2 separate regions of the Homo sapiens genome follow, and region 2 is linked to region 1. The links come from fine-mapping of genetic effects on gene expression. A gene starts in region 1. The other region holds a variant in brackets. All regions are shown on one strand. Distances are from middle to middle. Region 1 holds the start of STXBP5L (syntaxin binding protein 5L). Region 2 has its middle 18 kb from the start of LINC02049.

The links. PIP is the estimated chance that this variant, and not a neighbour inherited with it, causes the effect. A credible set is the group of variants that fine-mapping cannot tell apart.
Region 2: its variant is the best candidate, but not a certain one, in a credible set for the expression of STXBP5L in thyroid (GTEx, PIP 0.71).

What each region holds. Positions count from the first base shown.
Region 1 is chr3:120,903,039-120,913,196 of GRCh38, forward strand. STXBP5L (syntaxin binding protein 5L) reads left to right here and starts at 5,167. Exons shown (of 27, transcript NM_001308330.2): 1 at 5,167-5,296; 2 at 6,533-6,729. The coding sequence starts at 6,541. LOC105374069 (a long non-coding RNA gene) reads right to left here and starts at 5,055. Exons shown (of 6, transcript XR_924399.4): 1 at 4,991-5,055. RefSeq lists a silencer at 4,999-5,238.
Region 2 is chr3:120,848,944-120,859,101 of GRCh38, forward strand. No RefSeq gene overlaps it. Among named protein-coding and RNA genes, the nearest start is that of LINC02049, 18 kb to the left of the region's middle. The variant C/T (reference allele first, on the strand shown) is at 4,665.

The DNA of each region.
Region 1 (10,158 bases):
TTAACCCTGTGGTTTTTCCTTTGTGGATTTGGACTAGGAATAAGGGTTTTAATGCTGATTGTTATTTATTGCCATATAATAGAAAGCTGACAATTATTAACCAGTACTCCTCTTGAAGGATGTATAATAGGGTCAGAAAAGAGTTAGATGAAAACTTAGGAAGGAAAGGTAATTCCTAATCCTCTGGAAAAATTTGCCAGAAAGGATATAGGTGGAACCTGTTTACTTAGCTATGTTCTCTTACTGAAATTCTAACTTTTAAACCGGCAAATAATAAGGACACTGCTATAACTTGATTGAAGAGTCAGAAGTGAGTGACAAATTAGGTTGCTCATGCCAGGACCTAGAAGCTCACAGCACGCACAATGGAAATGTTCGCATTTGCTAATGTAAACAATTGCCAGCCCCACCTTATGGTAAGTATTATGTCATCATTCTCCCTCCATCCAAATTCTCCTTCCAGCTGTTCTGATAGTCACTCAGACTACAGCCTTTCTCAGCAAATTAATACTGCCTTACTACATCTAATTAGTTATTGATAACTGATTTTCTTCAATTTTGATGGGGTACTCCCCTGCGACTCTGTTAATGTATTTCAAATTATACTGAGATTTCTTGTGAGATAAGAACCTCCCATTAGCTTGCCGTTCCCAAAGTCTTCCATTTCTAGTACTCAGTGCCCATGAACTCTCAAATGTCTTTTTAGTTCTAGTATCCAAATTCCTGAAGAGATATTTTCCATTTTTTTCTGTTTTGTTTTAACCTAATACTCGAATTTGTCATAATTAACTTTTCTAATATAAAACACCTTTATAAAGGGATTTCTCTGGGTCCTCAACAGAAAACTACTAGCGTGAGGAAAGAACTTTGGAGTAAGATTGAGATTAGTCCAAATTCTTGTTTCAAAACCTACCAGATGTATGATATTGGGCTTATTACTTAACCTTGCTTTGCTTCAGTTTTTTACCTGTAAAATGGAGTTATCTATAGCTACCATACATTATTGTTGTGAGGATTAAATGAGAAAATAAATGTAATTTTTTTTTTGAGATGGAGTCTCGCTCTGTCACGCAGGTTAGAGTGCAGTGGCGCGATCTCGGCTCACTGCAAACTCTGCCTCCTGGGTTCAAGCAATTCACCTGTCTCAGCCTCCCAAATAGCTGGGATTACAGGCTCCTGTCACCGTGCCCAGGTAAATTCTGTATTTTAGCAGAGACAGGCCACCATGTTGGCCAGGCTGGTCTCGAATTCCTGACCTCGTGATCCACCCACCCTGGCCTCCCAAAGTGCTGGGATCATAGGCGTGAGCCACCGCGCCCGGCCAATAAATGTAAATTTTTAAACACAATTCCAGCTCATAGTAGATGCTCTCCTCAAAGGATGTTGAATTTGATGATCTTATTGTCATGGGCTAAATTGTGTCTTCCCAAAATTCATATGTCAAAGCCCTAACCTTCAGTACCTCAGAATGGAAGCATATTTGGAGATAGGATATTTTAAAAGGTGATTAAGCCACAATGAGGCCATGAAGGTGGACTCTAACACAATCTGACTGGGAGCCTTATAAGAAGCGGAAATTTAGGCACATGGAGAAATCAACGAGGGATGTGAGCCCACAGAGAAAAGACCATGTAAGGCCACAGAGAGAAGGTGACTATCTGCAAGCCATTGAGAGAGCCTCAGAAGAAAATAAATCTGCCGATGCCTTGATCTTGGATTTCTAGCCTCCCAAACTGTGCTAAGTTCCTGTTTTTTAAGCTACCCAGTCTATGGTATTTTGTTATGGCAGTCCTGAAAGACTAATACACATACAATCACTATTTTAGGTGGAGAATTGACCCGCCACCTTTTTTTCTATTCTAGTTTCTATTTAATCTTCTAAATGGTATCAAATAATAAGGCACCGATTAAGAGCATGATCTTAGAAGTTAGACAGCTTTGAATTCGAAGACTGGATTATCCACCTAAGTGACCTTGGGTGAATTTCTTAAATATTTCTGAGCTCCAAATTTCCTCTTTCATAAAATGGGGACAATACCTATCTTATAGAGTTATAATAAGGATCAAGTTAAAAGAGTTGTATGTAAAGTTCATAGTACAATGTTTGACGTAGTGCTAAATAACTGGTAGAATTATTATTATCTCTATATACAATGGATTATTTACATATGGTTTTGTCAATTTTGCTTAGTTTTCTGTAACCCTAGCCAGTTAAATTTTCTTCTCTGTGTGAAGTGCCACACATGTACATACTTTCTACAATTATTTAATTATTTTGCAGGTGTGGAAAGGCAGCCTCTCTTAGCTTCATTGTTGGCTTGAGTCCAAAATCACGAACACTTAAAGTGAGTTGTAACATATTTTCAACACACATCCTAAAAATCCTTCTGATGTAGTAGATTTATTTAAATGCTTTGATGATTTTGCTCCATGGATCAAGCTGAAAGTATTTTTCTTTTTGCAGTTCTTCATACTTGTCATTTTAGGAAGAAATCAAGCCTTATTCAGAAGCTGTACCTCAGCCATTCCTCTCCACAAAGTATTCTTCCAGTTTGCAGTGAATGATAAGGGGTCATCATTATTATTACCCGATCCAACTCTGAAGTTTCTCACATTATTTATAAAATATATGCTGTGGTCTGGTCTCATTGCTGTTAATAGATGGTTTATAAAATAACATCTTATTGCTTTTTAATTAATCCAGGATGAAATTTACTTCCATAGATATTTCATTATGCTTCTCTCACCTAGTAAGATTTTTAGGCTATTGTTTCTGCTGTCTCCTCATACACACAATGTACTCTGCCTCTTGCTTAATTCTATCCTTTGCTCACAGTTTGTGAATTGGCATCACAATATCCTGTGTGCACAGGCTCTCTGAGACTGCAATTATGTTATGATTTTTACTTGCTGCCATTCATTCAAATTAATATTCACTGGGCACTTACTATGTAGAAGACATTATGCTATTCACTGTGGAGGAACACAGATATTTGAAATAATCCCAAATAGTCCACAATCTAAGCATCCTAATGATCATATTTTTTTAGGCTTCCAATATTTATTTGGAAACATGAATACATTTTGACTTGGCTTTTCTCCCACTTCCTATACCTATTTGTTGTCCCATCTAACTCAGGCAGTCCATTGAATTCTCTCCAGGGTCCTCAAGAAGGATCTCTGTCAATCTTTTGTGTACTTTTTTCCTCAGCTCTCCCCCAATTTTTAGAATAAAGACCATCATTTAGTTTGTGATAATATGGTGCTAGTGATGATCAGTTTAAGAGGTTTTGTTTGCAAACATTACATCTCACTTTGCTGAATTGGGGCTATTCTCCTTCTTCGCTCCCATCAAAATGTCAAACCACTACTTGCTATAGGCTTGCTTTCATTTATTAGAAAAATGAAAACTCAGCCACTTTATTATAACCCTCCTTGCCTCTGTTTTTAAAAAGAAAAGACAGACATAAAACAAGGAAAGCAAACTCTTTATCCTTAACTAGCGTCCATACTTTGAGGTGAGCAATGGGCCAGGAAGAAGAGAAGAAAAAAGGTGGAAAAGAGTAAAAAGATACCTGTTGTTAGGGACCCAATACAGAATTTGGAACCCTACCAAGATCTAGTTTGTGTCAGACATATCACTTATTTCCACCATTATTTTTACCCCTTTCAAACATTATGTAATTGGGTACCAACTCATATATCTTTAATAAAAAATATTAATAAACCAACTCTTCAGAACCCTTTACGTGCCTATTTTAAGTGAAATATTGTGCCTGGTGCTAAATAATCTAGGAGAAATATACAATTCCATGCTTGCCTTCAAGAAGGTTACTGTCTAGCTGTGGCAATGAGAGACTACCAGCAGTGTAGGGAGTCCCAAAAGGAGTGAAATAGTCATTCAGGACAGAAAGATTCAACGTTGAGCTGAGGATCTGAAAAACTGAGCTCTATTTCATCTTTACCATTTCTTTGCTATGTCCTTGGACAAGTCATCATCCTTCAAGTCTCCTGCTTCCTCCTTCCCACTCTCTCCCTTGATTGAGAGAAAAGAGAGAGAGAGAAGAGGAGAGGTGAAAAAGAAGAAAAAGAAGAAAAGAAAAAAAGAGGTCAAAGATTGTAAGATGTAAGACAATATTTGAAATGATCACTAATGAGTTCTGTTGTGATGCCCAAATTGAAGTCTCAGTTAGCTGTGACCCGCTGAACTGCCATTCATTTCGCAAAGACATCGGGGTCCAAATTTTCCCGAAGTCAATAGCAGGTGAGGGCTCAGAACCAAATCTATCCTGATACAGTTTTTTTTTCTGCACTGAATAATACATCTTTCAAAATGATTATTGTGACTCACAGAAATAGCTTAAAATATATTCTTGATACGGTTTACAGAGTGAGAAATATTTCTTTAAAGAAATTAAATATCTTTGTATATGTGAGGATGATGGGGAAGGAGTAATTCTACTTACTAGAGAGCAAGGTAAGCAATCAATTCCTTAGGCTCTAGAAGGCTATATATTCTGAAACTGTTGAAATACAATTCTCCTTGGCAGATACGAACCATTAAGCCATTATTGGTAACAGCAGGGGTTAATCACAGATACAAGTTGAGTGCAGGTAGCAGGAGAGTGATGGGAGCCAGATAGATGCTCCTGAAGACCGGGAAGAGGCTCGCAGAAGTGAAAAGGTGCAAAACACTTGCTCAGTTCACCATACTGTCCAGAGCCATACCTAAGGTAAGCAACGCTTCCCGCATCCTCAGACTCCAGGCGTCCAAATTCGCACGCTTGCAGGCATTCTATTGATTCACACTTGAGTCCTTCAACAGGTAGCGCCAATTACATCCCCCAGAGCACGACCCCCAGCATACTGGCCAATACCGCTGTCAATCAAATACCTCACCTACTTCTCTAAATTCCCCCCTCCCACTGTCATTGGCTTTACCTTCGGCCTATCCACAGATTTCTTCTGCCCTGGAGACCACAGAACTTACCCTATCGAATCTAGGATTGGCGCCGAAGCTACTCCCGCCCTTTGACGTCCCCGGGCACCCCGCCCCCTTCACCTCCCAGCTTTGCCGGGGAAGAAGCAGGGCGGGGCAAGCTAGGGGCCGGCCCGGGGGCGGGGCCTGCCTCCCACGGCGGGAGGGCGGAGCCTGCTCTGGAGCCTGACTGCTCGGTTAGGACCTCGGAGAGCGCCAGGCGCCGCGACCAGAGGGCCCAGAGAAGCGGCCGGAGCCCGCCTACCTCGGCCCCCTCAGCTTCCCGGGCTGGCAGGCGGCTAGAGGCGTCTGAGGAAGGTGCCTAAGTCCTGGGTCAGATAGTCATCCCTCTGGGACGCCGCCGCCGCTGCCGCCGTCCAGCTGTGGCTCCCTCGCACCTGTGTGTGTCTGTGTGAGTGTGTGTGTGTGTTTGAGAGAGAGAGAGACAGAGAGAGACAGAGACAGAGAGCGAGCGCACCAGCGCGCGAATGCCCGTGTGAGGGTGTTTGTGTGTGTTCTGGCTGGGAGCGCGAATGCCTCGGCGTGAGGTGTTTGTGTGTTCGCGCGCCCGCGGGCGGGCGAGAGCCCCGCGCCTCAGCGCTGGGCCTGGGGGAGGGACAGCGGGAGCGGCGGCTCTGCGCGCCCAGCAGGCTGAGGCGGGACTCGGGCCGCAGCCGTCGCCGCCACCGCTTCACGTCCCCCGAGAGCGGCTGCCGTGCAGCGGGGAGAGCGGACGGCGGGCGGGCGAACAGGCGGGAGAGCGCGGCGGCGGCTGCGGGCAGAGGTGGAGGGAGGGGAGCAGGAGATGGGGAGAGGGGGGAAAGAGGACGCGGGGAGGGAGATGAGGGGGAGGTGAGGGGGAGGCGGAGGGACAAGTGGAAACAGACGGTGTCGCCGTTCTCCTCCTCCCCCCCTCCCCGGCAGCTGTTGCTGTGGGTCACTCGCAGATGTTTTGGGGTCCGGGCTGCTGGGGGATGGGGACTAGAAAAAGTACCCCCCTCCCCGCCTTTCATAGTGACAAAAAAGGAAGCGTTGAAGCTGATGGGGGAAGAGCCCGGAAGGTGGTGGCAGAGTAAATACCGGCTCCCCCAACGTCGTTTTTCTGAAAATAAAATACTCTGAGCCGAACGTTTCGAAGAAGGAAAGTCCGCCCTTAAGAGAGAGACAGAGTCTTGGTCTGTTGAACTCTGGTTTGATTGTATAATAATGATGATATAATGCTAATGACGATGATGACACTGCCTTTTATTTTTACCCCAGTGCTGATAAAGCGTAGTTACAGCTGGGGATACAGTCCTTGAAAATCTGATGTGTGAGGAGGGAATACTGTTGCTTTTGGAGTTGTGTTATATTTATCTTTTTTTAAAAAGGATATGCTTTTTAGAATTAAAATTTGGCAAAACGAATCCTGACTCTTTTTTTCCAGTCGGTCGTAACCAATGCTCATAAAATGGGGACTGACTTGACTAATGAAAAGAGAAAGGCTTTTACCAAGGTCTAATTGCACGTGTTAAGTCACCTCTTTCCCTTTTTTTCCTTTGTATTTCTCAACAGTGTTTAAAATGAAGAAGTTTAATTTCCGAAAAGTTTTGGATGGCTTAACTGCCTCCTCCCCTGGCAGTGGTAGCAGCAGTGGCAGTAACAGTGGTGGTGGGGCTGGAAGTGGTTCCGTACATCCGGCGGGGACTGCAGGGGTTCTCAGAGAGGAAATTCAGGAAACTTTGACTTCGGAGTATTTCCAGATTTGCAAGGTAAGTTTTGAATTGGCTTAAAGCCTATTATTTCTTTATTATACTGTTGTAAGGAAACAAGGGGGGAAAAACATACCAGGAACAGGAAACTGTTGAGATGTCAGCATCAGAGTCTGCTGCAGAAAGCTCTGTGGGTAGATCAGTTTGGCTTAATAGATATTTTAGGCGTCAACTTAAAAAGCAATGATAGTTTAAGTGGGAAATGAGCACACACAAAAAGTAGAATTTGCAAGATAATGTTAAGATCCAATAGTGGACAAAATTTTTAATATTTGTGTATTATATTAACTGAAGAAGCAAATAGTCGTTTGGTTTTTTGTGTTATCAGAGAAAATATTGTTATTTCACTGTTCAGTATGAAATGAATAAAGCTACTAGCATGTTGCTAGGATTAAGTAGATAATAGGAAAATATGTTCATTTTAAGGGGGCCAATGACATTGCTTTAAAATTCCGAATAAAAACACCTTCACATTCTTAAACTCTTCATAAATACACAAACAGACAAATGCACAGGCTTATAAGAACTTGCAGTTGTAGGAACTCAAAAATAGCGGGTGTTCTGGTTTAGTAAGAAAACATTTTATGTAATTATACTTTGATATTGAACTTCTAATGAATATGCAAAAGAGAGTTTCTGGTAGGTAGAGAAGATGAGAGTTTATAAAACAAGCATTAGGTTAATGCATAGAGATATTGTTATTGCTATATTTGTTATATTTTATGACATAAAGTGATTTATAATTTTATTGCCCTTTTTTGAGTTGTCTTGGAATGTGCCTATTATATGCAACAAAGGCTACTAAGTTATTTATGTCATATAAATGAATATAGTTTTGTAAATGTGTTTGGCTACATAAGAAATAGAAAAATTGCAAAATTACAGAAATTAACAATTTTTAAAAATACTTTCACAAAAGAAAAGTTTTTTGAAATTATTAAAATTATATTTGTGGTAAACAAGTGATATATGTATAATGAGGTATATTTCAATCACTGTCTCAGCCTATATTCCTAGCAGGGTCATTATAAAAACATTAAATCTATAGTTATTAGTTTACATAAAAGCAAGTTTATTTAGAGTTAATTTAGATAAACAGATTTAATTCTAAGCTACTTTGTGAAATTTGTGTACAGTAATAATTTTTTTCCTCAATAGGAAATAACAGATATTCTGTTCGATGAGGGAAGGTCTTAACAGTGGTTATGAGACAAATGTAAAAGAGTCCTGGAGTTCAAATTTGAACTGCTAGGCAGGGGAATTATGCCCTGATTCTCTAATCTTTGATGTGTTTGCAATTTTCACGATCAGATTCTGAAAATTTTTTCCAAATTCTCTCAATTCATGTATATGACAGTGATACAGGAGAATTTTACCAGAGGTAAAACTGGTATAGGAAAGATAGACTTCTGAAACAGAATGGCATTGGGCTGTTGAGGTCATAAAGCTTGTAGAGAAGGTTTTAAATAAAAAACTTCAGGGAAATGGGTGAATGCAAGAGATAATGGAATACATAGTTATCTTCCCATTTATTCAGGCAAGAGATAGTCATAGGAAGTACCAGAAGTTAAATACATACTACTTTAAAAACATATGGCATGGTAGGAAGAGCACTGGCCTAGGAATCAGAAAATTTGTGTTTTATTTAAAGTTCTGCTAGTTGACAGCCATATACTCTTGGGTAAGCCATTTATCTCCCTTGAGCCTTGATTTCTGCATCTGCAGTGTAGGAATAAGTGTATCTGCTCTCCTTAACTAAGAGACGGTTATTGGGAGGATCAGACAGAATAAGGTGAAGGTAATGCATAAATGGAAAGGATGATAAAATATATACGAATATTATTGTTAAAGTTTGTAAAATCACGTGTTCATAGTAGAGCGAATATAACTAGTGGGTTATAATAATATTAGCTTATGATTTCCAAATAAATTATAAGATAGATAGCTATATAAGTTGTCCACTAACAGTACTGAAGTCTTACTAAATGTGGAAAATACTGTAACATCTTTGGATAGGAATATAGTTAATTTTAAAAAATAGTTATATGGATGTATTATAATTACCTGGTCTATAACAAAACATATAAAAATGGACTAAGGAAATCCCAAAATTAGACCGTTACTGAAATGGGGACTTTATTTAGACTCATAGACTCCCTGATTAAATGTGCAAAAAAATTTCTCTTCTGAGTTCTAAGGAGCTGTCATATTCTGGGTGCTTCTACCTTTTCAACATGGGCAAAACTAAAGTATAAATCTAGACTTGGCTGTTTGAAAGCCTCCTCTCTTCTATCTGATTAGTCATCACATCCCCTCTATTCTATTTCCTTAGTATTTCTGAAATTTATGACCTTTTCTACATCCCCAGTACTTGTTCGTTCCGTCATATTTTCTTGCTTGGTCTTTTGAAATCACTTTCTAACTGATCTCTTTACTTCTAGTTTTACTGGATTACACTTCATTTTGTTACAATAATGGCTATTTCTGAAATACAATGTTAATTATGTCATTTCCTTGCTAAAAATTCTATATTGGTTTCCTACAGCAATGATGCTCTTAAAATGAAAGTCTTATTTGAAACCACAGTAAATAACATCTATTCAAACAAAAAAATGTGGCAACTCATGGGCACACATTTGTTTCAGAAATTATAAGAATAAATTATACAGCCAATTGATAAAAAAACTTTTTATATTTGTTTTTTATTGTGTAATATCGCCCATAGGAAGGTAGTAGGATGTTCGCTAGCCTTAAAAAAGTGAAAGTATAAAGCTGTACCCTTCATAATAAACAAAATATCTATGAGATGTTCAAAGTCATAGAAATGGCAGAAGAAACTTTGGTTCAAGGTCAGCCAAAAAAAAAAAAAAGTTAATGCATTGGGTTACTGCAATCGTTCAGAATGTGTATACATTGGAATGCCTGCATTGTCCAGGTATTTGTGAAATACATGAACTGCCTTTCCTGAACTTGAATTCTGTGAAATACAATTTGAAACTATTGCTCTATAAAATAAATTTCAAATTGCTTACCTTGATGGGTATAGAGTTTCCTTCAGAAGAGATTCCTGTTTACCTTTCCATTTTTATTTGCTTGATTCCCTAAGTATACTGCATTCCCTAAAAGATACCATATTTTCTCATATCTCAATGCCTTCTCTCATTCTTTCGTTTCTGACTAGAATACCTTTTCTACTTTCATACGATTGGATAATTCCCAGCCATCTTTTACCTCATAATTCAAACATCACCTCTATGAGACTAGCTCTGACCACTGCCACCTCAACTACCCACCAGGGTTCTTTTTTTTCTTTTTTAAAAACCTATTCTATGTTTTTCTGTAGCATCTGGCATATACCTATAGTGTGAATTTAGCATCTTCCTGTGATTAAAAAAGTTTCTTAAAAATCTGTCACTGCCGTTATACTAT
Region 2 (10,158 bases), 54 kb before region 1:
GTCCATAGTTCCTAGTCATAGAGAGCTACTCTCTCTTCTACCCTGCCATTTTTGTTAATTGGGCAAAAATTATCCATTTCCAATCTTCAATTTCCTTTACTATCTTCTGTGATCACTAAATGTTTACCTATAATGTAAAAATTTACACCGAAATTGACTTTCCTTGCTAATTTAAAATTAGTCAGGAAAAATTTTCAATCTTACATATGAAACATTTTCCATAGTAGTCTTTTTTTCCAGCACAGTTAGGTGTAATCACTTATGAGTGGACCATGTATGGCAGGGAGATATACTCCAAAATTAAGAGCTGTAATTAAGAAATTACACTATACAAGGTAGAAAAACAACAATTTTCTTAAAAAAAATAAGGTGACTCTATAATTTAATGAAATGGGGAAATATATAAGGGAGAGTATAAAGACTTTGCAATTATCTAATCTTTAAAGTATAGCATATGTTTTCGGTTCTAAGGTTACTAGTAAATATGGCAAAACTTATCTGAATCTCAAAACTTCTTATATTAAAATAGATATACTTTGGTCTGAGGCATGGTGCAGATTTATAGATGTCTTTCCTACCTTCCTTCTCAAATTCCAGCCTCCTTTTGGCTACTCGGATTCTGGGGGTCTGATTATATCTTATTTCCTATGAACTGGCCTAATTGGCCTTCTTGTTTCCTCTCAGAGCAAATTCCTTTTTTTTTTTTTTCTAGTTTAAAACTCCCAGAATTCATTGAGTCCTCACATTTAACCAGGATTTCTCATCTGAGGGATGTGCCTTATTCACAGAATGGCAAAGTATTTGACGTGTTCCCTTTTTCAGCTCAACTTACTTATTCTCACAACCCTGGGTAATTTGAAGATATGGAATTACCAGAGAATGTAATGTTTCCTCAAAGTTTGAGGATTTTATAGAATGAGTGAATCTTTCTGTGAATGAGTGAATCACCTATCATTGCAGATAATGCACACAGCAGAAGTTTGCAAGATTGTACTGATTCATTATTACTCAGGACATTCTTTAAAATTACTTTAAAAATTACATCCATGATGTCTAATTTTTTGTCCGTTTTCTCCTTTTAAAAATACAGAGCCATAGATCCCAGCCTCCTATGAACAGATATTTTAATGTAATAAGAAAATCCAGGAAATGGGAAATGCTTTTGTAAAAACCACAAAAACAAATGATTATAATCCAAATCCACCAATGTTTCTAACTCATGATTAGAAGGAAAATATTTTAAGTCTTTCCCCTTATTTTCATATGCAGTCAAAGAATTATGTAAGTGGTATTTATTGTAAATTCACTGTTTATACTTCACCATGATGAGAGGAGCACTCTATCTGAAATCATTATGAATTATTGTTGGGAGGAAGAACAGCCAGAATAAGTGATTAAAAAAGAGAATAAGGCAAGGGTCTGGTGGGGATAGGGTGCGGAGCTGCAGCTGCTATCTCAGCGTGAGAACAGAGACCTGTTATGCACGCAGGAGGAACACATGGTCTGCTTCCATCCTTGCAGAGCCCTTATTTCCGCTGAGTTCTCTGCTGACTCTAGTTCTCAGTCCAAAAGGAATTGGCACAATGTTTACTACCTGGAGGGATCAGAAATAAAGACCAACCCCCCCATGGTGCCTCTGAACAAGTAAGCTTAGAAAGCCGCAGAAGGGGAGACAGATTGCTAATAGCAAAGGGGTGGGGCGTGGCTTCTGTAGTATGGTCCTAAGGGAATTCTATCTATGGGCAACCAGGAAGAAGGAAGAGTAAGATCTCTGCCATACAAATATCTCATTGCCTGGGTAGAAACTGGTTGAGATAATGGCCCTGTGTTTGTATACCATTTAGAGGACTGCTTAGGAAAAATGGGCACATAGAAACAGCCATTCCTTTGTTGGAAATTGCCTTTTGGCAATTTCTTTCCCTTGGCATAGTGAGCCTTCATTTTTCACATAAAATGCACTGGCACCTAGACACAAAACTCCTTGGAAATACCCCTGAGTGCACTTTCTGGGACATGCCAGGTTCATGGCAGCAACTTGGGATCACAGAACTTTAGAATTAAAAAACCAGAAGGGGCCTTAGAGGTCACCCAGTCAGCTGTGTATGCCCAACAGATTCTGGGTGAATCATGAGTTTTCATCAAGTTGGGCATCTGCCTGTGAATTTGGATGATGTCACTTCAGTGCTGACAAATGAGCAGCCTGGCTAGAGCCAACACTTGTGTGGGATGCTTCATCCACAGGCGTTAGCTGGTTAATTTGATGATAAATTAGTTCTTTCTGACTCAGTGGACTGCAGCACCAGCAGTTTTGCCTAGTCTGGGCTTCATTTACCTGTCACTGTCACTGTGATTGCTGGGTCTCTGAGTTCTTCCTTTTCCCGCTCTACTGATGCTAACTTTTTAGTAGACTAGCTAATTGGTTCACTCTTCTCTCCTCTGCCTAGTCCCCTCCAGCCAACTGCCTTCTCACAATCTCTGTCTTCAAATCAGGGAAAAGGAGGAGTAGAGATCAGGTGTCATGTCTGAGGATGAGGGCTGGTGGTCCACCTTCTCCCCAACTAAAGTTCTTCCCTTCTCTTCTGATGTCAGGATCTCTCCATTCCTCTCATCCCCTTCCTCAGCAGCATATTGGGAGGATTAGGCAATGGAAAGAGATGTATTTAGTCTAACTTCAGTCTACAGGTCAGGGACTGGGATCAGTCCTTGCACGAAGAGGGCATCGCAGAGATTTAGCTCCAAAGAATACTCTGAAGTCAGGTGAAGATACCATTGTCTGCATCCTTAAGTTAAGGTGACCTCCTAGCTATGGAAGCAATGAAGCAGAGGTGGGGCAGGCTGCAGGCCTTTCTCTTAAACTCACTTGGCCAAAACCTGTCTCCTAACCTGAGGACACGTGCCTGAGAAAGATAAAGGAATGTTGACAGAAACAAGATAGACTATGTGACTGAGATAAACCAAAACAGGAAAAGACAAATTTCACGTTGGAGATGAAAACAAGCAGTGTCTGTCCCCTTCCATCTCTGAACCAACAAGTAATTCTAATCTTGTCAAAAAACCTTGAAAATTATGATAGTTAAATATCAGTAATAAGGGGGAAAATACCCATATATTCTGAATCAGTAATTTTCAAGCTTGGCTTCACATTGAAATCATCTAGGGAGCTTTAAAAAGTACTGATGCCTTTGTCCCACTCTCAGAAATTTTGATTCAATTGGTTTGGAGTGCTGGCAAGACATTGGGATCTTTCAAAAAGGAAATTATCATATGCAACAGCGTAACTTTCCAGAGATTAATTTTTTTCTTTTCTTTAGGGAGAGAGGCACCATAAAAGCACCATGGAATCACCTTAGGCCTCTCCTTCAGAAGGGAAATTACTGTGGAATCTGAAGGTGGTTTCTTTCAGACAGGCAGGTGGATAGGAGTTCTTAGAGTCTGAACTCAACAGTTGCTGTCTAGAATAAGGGGGGTATAATTAGATGCTTTGCATTTTGACAGTTCAAAAGCAAAGGCTACATAACCCTTAGCTGCAGATTCCCAGATAGAGAAAAGGGATAGCAGCTGAGGGTCCCCTAATGTCCTGGCAGGTATCTGTAAACGGCTCTTATCTTTGCTTTTCCTGCTGTGTACCTGAAATTTCCCACTTCCTCTTATCAAGTTTCTAGCTCAAATATCAACTACCCTCCCTGAAGCTTTTCTAGCCACCTCAGGTAAAATTAATCTGTTTTGCATTCCTAGAGTGCTGCATGCATATTTCTATTCCCGCACTTGTCACCTTATATTACAGTTACTTGTTTACATGCTTGTCTTCCTTCACAGCTAGACTCTGAACTTCCTAAAATCAGAGACTTCACTTTTCATCTTTATATAATAAATGTCAAGACATAAATGACTTTTGATAGGTGCATAACAAATATTTATGGAATTAATCAGAAATAATAAGCTAGGTTCTTAGAGAGTCCAGAATTCTATTTCACTTACAATGTAATTGAAATAAATGTACAAGTAATGAATGGTAGAAAGCAGTAATGTAGAATAATTTTTTTGTCTTTAAAGTACCATGAAATTTGTTTAAATACAGAATAAATAAGAACATAAAATGCATAAGGCAGAAATTTCCCAACATGCCATCAGTCAGTGGTCCAGGGGTTTGGAGCATCGTGTGCAGAAGGGTAGAAGAGTGGCTGGAGGTGAGGCTGGGGACTGGGGATACTACCTGGAGCTCACTGTGGGAAGCTGTGTGTGATATGGGAGGCATTTGGACCTTGAGGGGGTCCTCTAAGCAGGAAATGACAAAATTAGATTTGTCATTGGTTTAGAAAAGGATCAATCTCTGGCTTTCTGGTGGATTTACCATAACATGGTAAAGTGGGAAGACCAGGGAGGAGTTTACTGTCCAGGCGAGTGATTGGAAAATGCGTCTTCTATTCCTGTTCCAAATAATAGGCCTCCCAATTGTTTTAGGCTTAATTGTGTCTCCCCCAAAATTCACATGTTGAAGTCCTAACCCCCTAGTACCTCAGAATGTGACCGTGTTTCAAAATATTTAAAGGGGTAATTAAATTAAAATAAAGAAAATTAGGGTTAGCCCTAATGCAATATGACTGATTTCCTTATAAGGAAAGGACATTAGGACACACACACACACACACACACACACGCGCGCG[C/T]GTGCGCGGAAAGCCATATGAAGATATGGGGAGAACACAGCCATCTGCAAGTCGGGAGAAAGGTCACAAGAAGCCACCCTGCAACACACCTTGATCTTGATTTCTGGCTCCCAGAATTGTGAGAAAATACATTTCTTTATTGTTGTATTCATTTGTTAGAGATACCATAGCAAACTAATACATCAAGAAACTCTTAGGACATAATTTATTGTTAAGTTCTATGCTGCTCTTATGTATTATTTTTCACTACCTTAAGCCCTAGGTCTTGAAGCAGTTTGTGGGGCAGAGAACAGACATTTTAGCACACAGTCTTTCACTAAACTTTAAAATAACATATGCTAGAAGTGCCCCCTAGAAACCTAGGGTTTGAGCAAACAATATGAAACCTTGAAGAAAGATAATTTTTCATCTTAGATTTTCTTTAATGGATATATTAGAAATTGATATTTATCATTTTCTGCCCCATTCCCATTCAACCCCAAACATGCACTCATATACATTTAACCACATATTCTATTGAGAGAATCTGCAATATAGCTCTAGTGGCTCCGTTGGTAGCAAATAACCCTGTTTTACTTTGCTTGGCTACAGTGACCACAGGGGTGTCATTTGACTCAAAGAGAACTAATGTACAGACTGAGCTGACTGAGCAGACTCTCTCTCTCTCTCTCTTTCTAATTTGAACCAAGAAAGCTAGAAACTGAGGACATTAGTAGCTGAATAGTGTTTATGTTGGAAACAGAATGACTATTGCTGAAGTTTCCTGATTTGCTTGGTTTTTCTGAGGCCTCTTGATTTGTAGATCTGTATCGTTATAATAAGCCCCCTTTACTTGAGCCACGTTAAGTAGATTTCTCTTCCCTGCAAGCAAATGTGCCATAATACAAAGGATAAAATTAATTCTAAAGCTGAGGTTAAGCTTTAGAGACTAAAACCATGAATAACCACAGATATATCCTGAAATATATGTAATTCCATATATCTTTTTATTCTCTAGAACAAGACACAAAGCCTATACCACAAAGAGGGGGAGGAAAAACTAAGGTGGTAAAGTAGCTGCTTCCATGATTCATGTAAACTTTACTTTTAATCTTCTCAATTTTCATTTAAATATGAGTATGTATGTATGAATATATACATATGCAAAATATACCAGAAAAATTGATAGTTTTACTTGGGAAAAGAAAAAAGGCAGAGGATATGGAATTGAAGCATGAAGTTCCATGATACACACAGAAAGCAATTTCAAATCTACCCCTATAATACTGACACAGTTGAAACTGAAAGGTCTTATCTAAACCCATGTATTATTCTGAATAAGGAAAATTTTAGTAGCTTTCTGAATTGCAACTGAATTCCTAAATGTGAGCATTTAAATCATTCTTAATTATCTGAAAACACTTGGTGAGGTGATTTTGAAGTGTGAGTTATTTTCCTCTCCTCTCTGACTCAGTTTTGCAAAGCAAACATTGCTTTTTATGGGCACTGTCATAGATTCAGGCTAATGGCCCAGCTTCCTTTTCCTCATTAGAGGACGTACAAGGTTTGGGGAGGCTTTCTGGATTCAGCTAAACTACATTTCAAGGCAGGGCTCTGCATTCAACATTAGATCTGAGAATGGGATTCTATGTGGAGGAGGGATGGCCCTCCAAGGGACAGGCCTGGGCGCTTTCCTCTTCCTGACCAGGACTGATTGCCCTGCAGATGGCCCCCTGACTGGCTTTTCTTAGGAGAAGAGAGAAGCCAGGCAAGCGGCATTTGGCCTTCCCTTTATAGCATCTGTGACAGAGAAAATAATTAAAAACCAAATATTAAGTGATCAGTCTAGAGTCAGAAACATGGAGGCCAGGCTGACTCAGAGGACAGAGGAAACAAAGGCATAAGGTGAAGTACTAACCATATATAGACAAGACAAGATGGTCTGGTGTTTATGTGCACAGGTACTGAGTCAGCCTGCTGGGGCTCAAACTCCAGCCTGCTGTTTGTTTATAAGTTTCTTGACTTCCCCAAGTCCTAATTTTCCCGTCTAGATAGACAGTGGTAATAATAGTACCTACCTCATAATGTTGTTAATTAAATGTGATAATATATGTAAGATGATTTGCATTCCATCTCATGTGTGACAAAGGTTTTATGTTATTAATATAAAGCTTGCCAACCTAGAGGAGAGACATGCTGTGGAGGGGAGCAGGGCCAGGGGCCATAACACAGAAGAGAGATGGGGCAGCATAGGCTGCATCTCACACCACCTTGTTCTCTACCTGCATTTGGCACAGAGGTAAGCCGTGTTCCTCTGGCTGGGCAGCTGCATCAACACATAATAAAATAAGAGATTTGGAGAACTCTTCAGAAAGCAAAGAACAGCTGTGCCTTTCTCCTCCGTTTAGCTTATTTTTGTTCCCCATGAAGGCCACTCTAGCTACTGAGATTAAAAACAACATCCCTCTCTCCCCCCGCAAAAAAAAAAAAAAAAAAAAAAAAAACTTTTTCTCCAGTGAACCAAGAGATTTAAGTAGCAGCTCCAGTGACAGAATATCTGGCTGGCTGTCTGGCTCCTGTGTGCTGGCGCCTCTCCATTCCCGCCCATCCCCATCCTAGTTTTGGCTTTCCTAGTCAGACTTCTCTGCATAGCAGCAGAGGGTGTGCTCAGCAGCTCTGCCCAATGACTGATGGACCTGCAGCAGCCCCCGCGGAGGAGGCCAGGCTGTGATTCAGACTTCAGAGCATATTTGGAGGGTATTGCTTCTCAGCTGCCAGTAACTGCATTAGACTTGCACTTGGTTAGTGATGGGCACTTTGTGGTTACTTTTCTGATTAATAACTTATCTTACCTATATGACCCTCTTTCCAACTACCCTTTATTTTTGCCCCCTCTCCCCTTATATCTATTTCCTTGTTTGTCCTTGTGAATAACTACATATTTCAATGTCTTTGGATATAAATTCCTCTCTCTAATCTGATGGACACACAAAACTTAATTGTGAATCCCTTTGGGAAAGTCCCATTTAATAACAGACAAGGCTGCCCCATGGAAGCCCCTATAAGCCCAAAGCCTGTCTAGTGGGGAAAGAGGGTCCTCAGCTGACCTATACATCTCATAGATGTTTCATTCAGCCCTCAGGTTCCCAGATTCAGGGGACCCTCAGTACGATCACATGTGCTATCAGACTATTCTTTCCAGAGCCTGGAACTCTGAGCCTTCAGGGACAGGTCTGGTACCTCTCCTTTTGTGCTATGATTGTGTACACACATATTGTGTTTTTCAAAAATGGTGGTTGGCAATGCACACATACCTGTAGTTGATTGTGACTGAGATATTTATAACATAAGGACTAGACTAGAGCACTAGAGTTCAACAAAGTTTTCGCAGAGATTGTTGTAGTGAAAGTGAGTGTGGAGAATCAAGTTGGCAGGCTCTGAAGACCCCACCCCTATTCAACAGGAAAAATTCCGCTTGACGAGTTTTGCATATTTGGTTCTGTGCTGGATATCTTCTGTTTGCTTGTTTAAATCCATTCTCTGTCCTTTTCATCTTGTCTTTTGTCTCGGGAGGCTGACTTCTATGGATTGCATTAATTGAACTTCCTTGACCTTTAGCTTTCTATTGGGTTCAGCCAATGGAAGAAGCAGCAGTAGATTGGAGGGCCGAAGGAGAGAGAAGCAAGGGTATTTCTTTTCCAGATTCCTTAATTTCTAGGTTGTTGTTGGCAATGGCTTCATTCCTCTACCAAAGCCCACCTCTCTTATTTGGTGGCCCTCTCCCATAGCTTCAGTTCTTGCCAGGTCTTGATCATCACTCTGCCCTCTTTCTTGCACCTTCAGGCCTAGGGGTGGCAACACCATTCCTGGCCCTGAGGTACTCTCACCTTCCCTTGTAGTTTTCCCTTTATCCCACCCAGACCTTTGTGAATAGCCCCTTCATTAAACCCTATTCACTTACCCTTTTTGAGTTTTCCTTCAGTTTGAATTTGTCATGCTAGGACTATGACTGATCCAGTCTTCTATTGTAAGGTTTTGTTTAGTAAAATATTTTGCTGCTAAATGAAATTTGTGAAACCATGGCACTGGACAATCAGAAGCATTGTGAGAACAAATGTCATGTTCTTTGTGGGTGTAAATTACCCAAGATAGCTAAAGCAATGTCTTCAAAAAACCATTAAATTTGTGATCTTTACTATATAGTTTAAAGTTTATATTAAGGAATATATTTAATTCAGTACTAAATTTATTAACTAAATCAACTTTGGAATCAGACAGGCTTGCAGCCTGACTCTGGCACTTACCAGTTCTTTAATCTTGAGTAAGCTATTTAACCTCCCCAAGCCTCAGTTTTCTTATCCGTAAGATAGAAGTAATAACATTCTCTAGTTCATGGAACTGTTATGAGAATTAAATGAGATGGTATATATAGAGTGCTTAATGCTGAGCTTGATACTTAGCTTGATGCCCAATAAACTTTAATGTTTGCTATTATTATTTATAATAATAATATGGTTAAGAATATATCAAACCAGCAAAAGTGAGCCATTTGAAGAAAGAATAGTTTGAAAATCTAAAGGTCTGGGTGGGGAAACAACAAGTGCTTCACTTAGACAAAGACCAGACCTGGTTCTGCCCACCTCTTGCAAGCATCTAAATCAGCCTTCCTGTCCAAAGATCTGTGGTGAAACAACATGCATTCTGGGCCATCAGAGATTCCCTGGCAATAACAGTAAATTAAGACAGGCATATAAGGCAGAGAAAGCAGCAGTCACCTGTGGAAGTTGTAGAGAACCTCCTTCAAATCTTGGTTCAAATGTTATGCTTTCAATGAGACCTACCCCAGACCTACTAAAAACTGACTCACACCCAATCCCCGGAGCTCCTGATCTCCCATGTCCTACTCTATTTGTTTTCTTCACTCCATTGCGCCCTTCACCTCCTAGCATACCATACAATTGGTTTATTTATTTATTACATTTTCTGCTTTCTGTCTCTCTCTTTCAGCTAGAATATAAGCTCCATGACAGCGGGACATTTTTGGCATGTACACAGATGTTTTCCAACTCAGTATTCAATAAATATTTGTTGAATGTTGTTGAGTCATCTCTGCATTACATTGTGTATGACATTTGGCTATCCAAGGATGCCAAGTGATAACCACTGGATGATTATTTGATTGTATTCAATGGATGTTTACATCAGTTTTACAAATTAGTCATCATTTATGACTGGTCCCGCACTCGAATTATGTCTGCTTAAAAGTCTGGTACAAAGTGAGCACTCAATAGGTGTTAGTCCCCCCATGTTGTGTAACTATGTGTTGTATTTAGCTTTTTTTTTTAAATTAGTTTTCATGTACGGGTATCTGTGTGGGTGGGTACACTGCAAAGCACATCTGTGCTTCCACACAGTGTTAAAAGCTCTTAACTATCTGTCTGCAGCTTATCAGAGAGAAGACAATAATTGCTTCTTTAGTATTCCCTTTTCACTTTGAGTGTTCTCCCTCATTTCC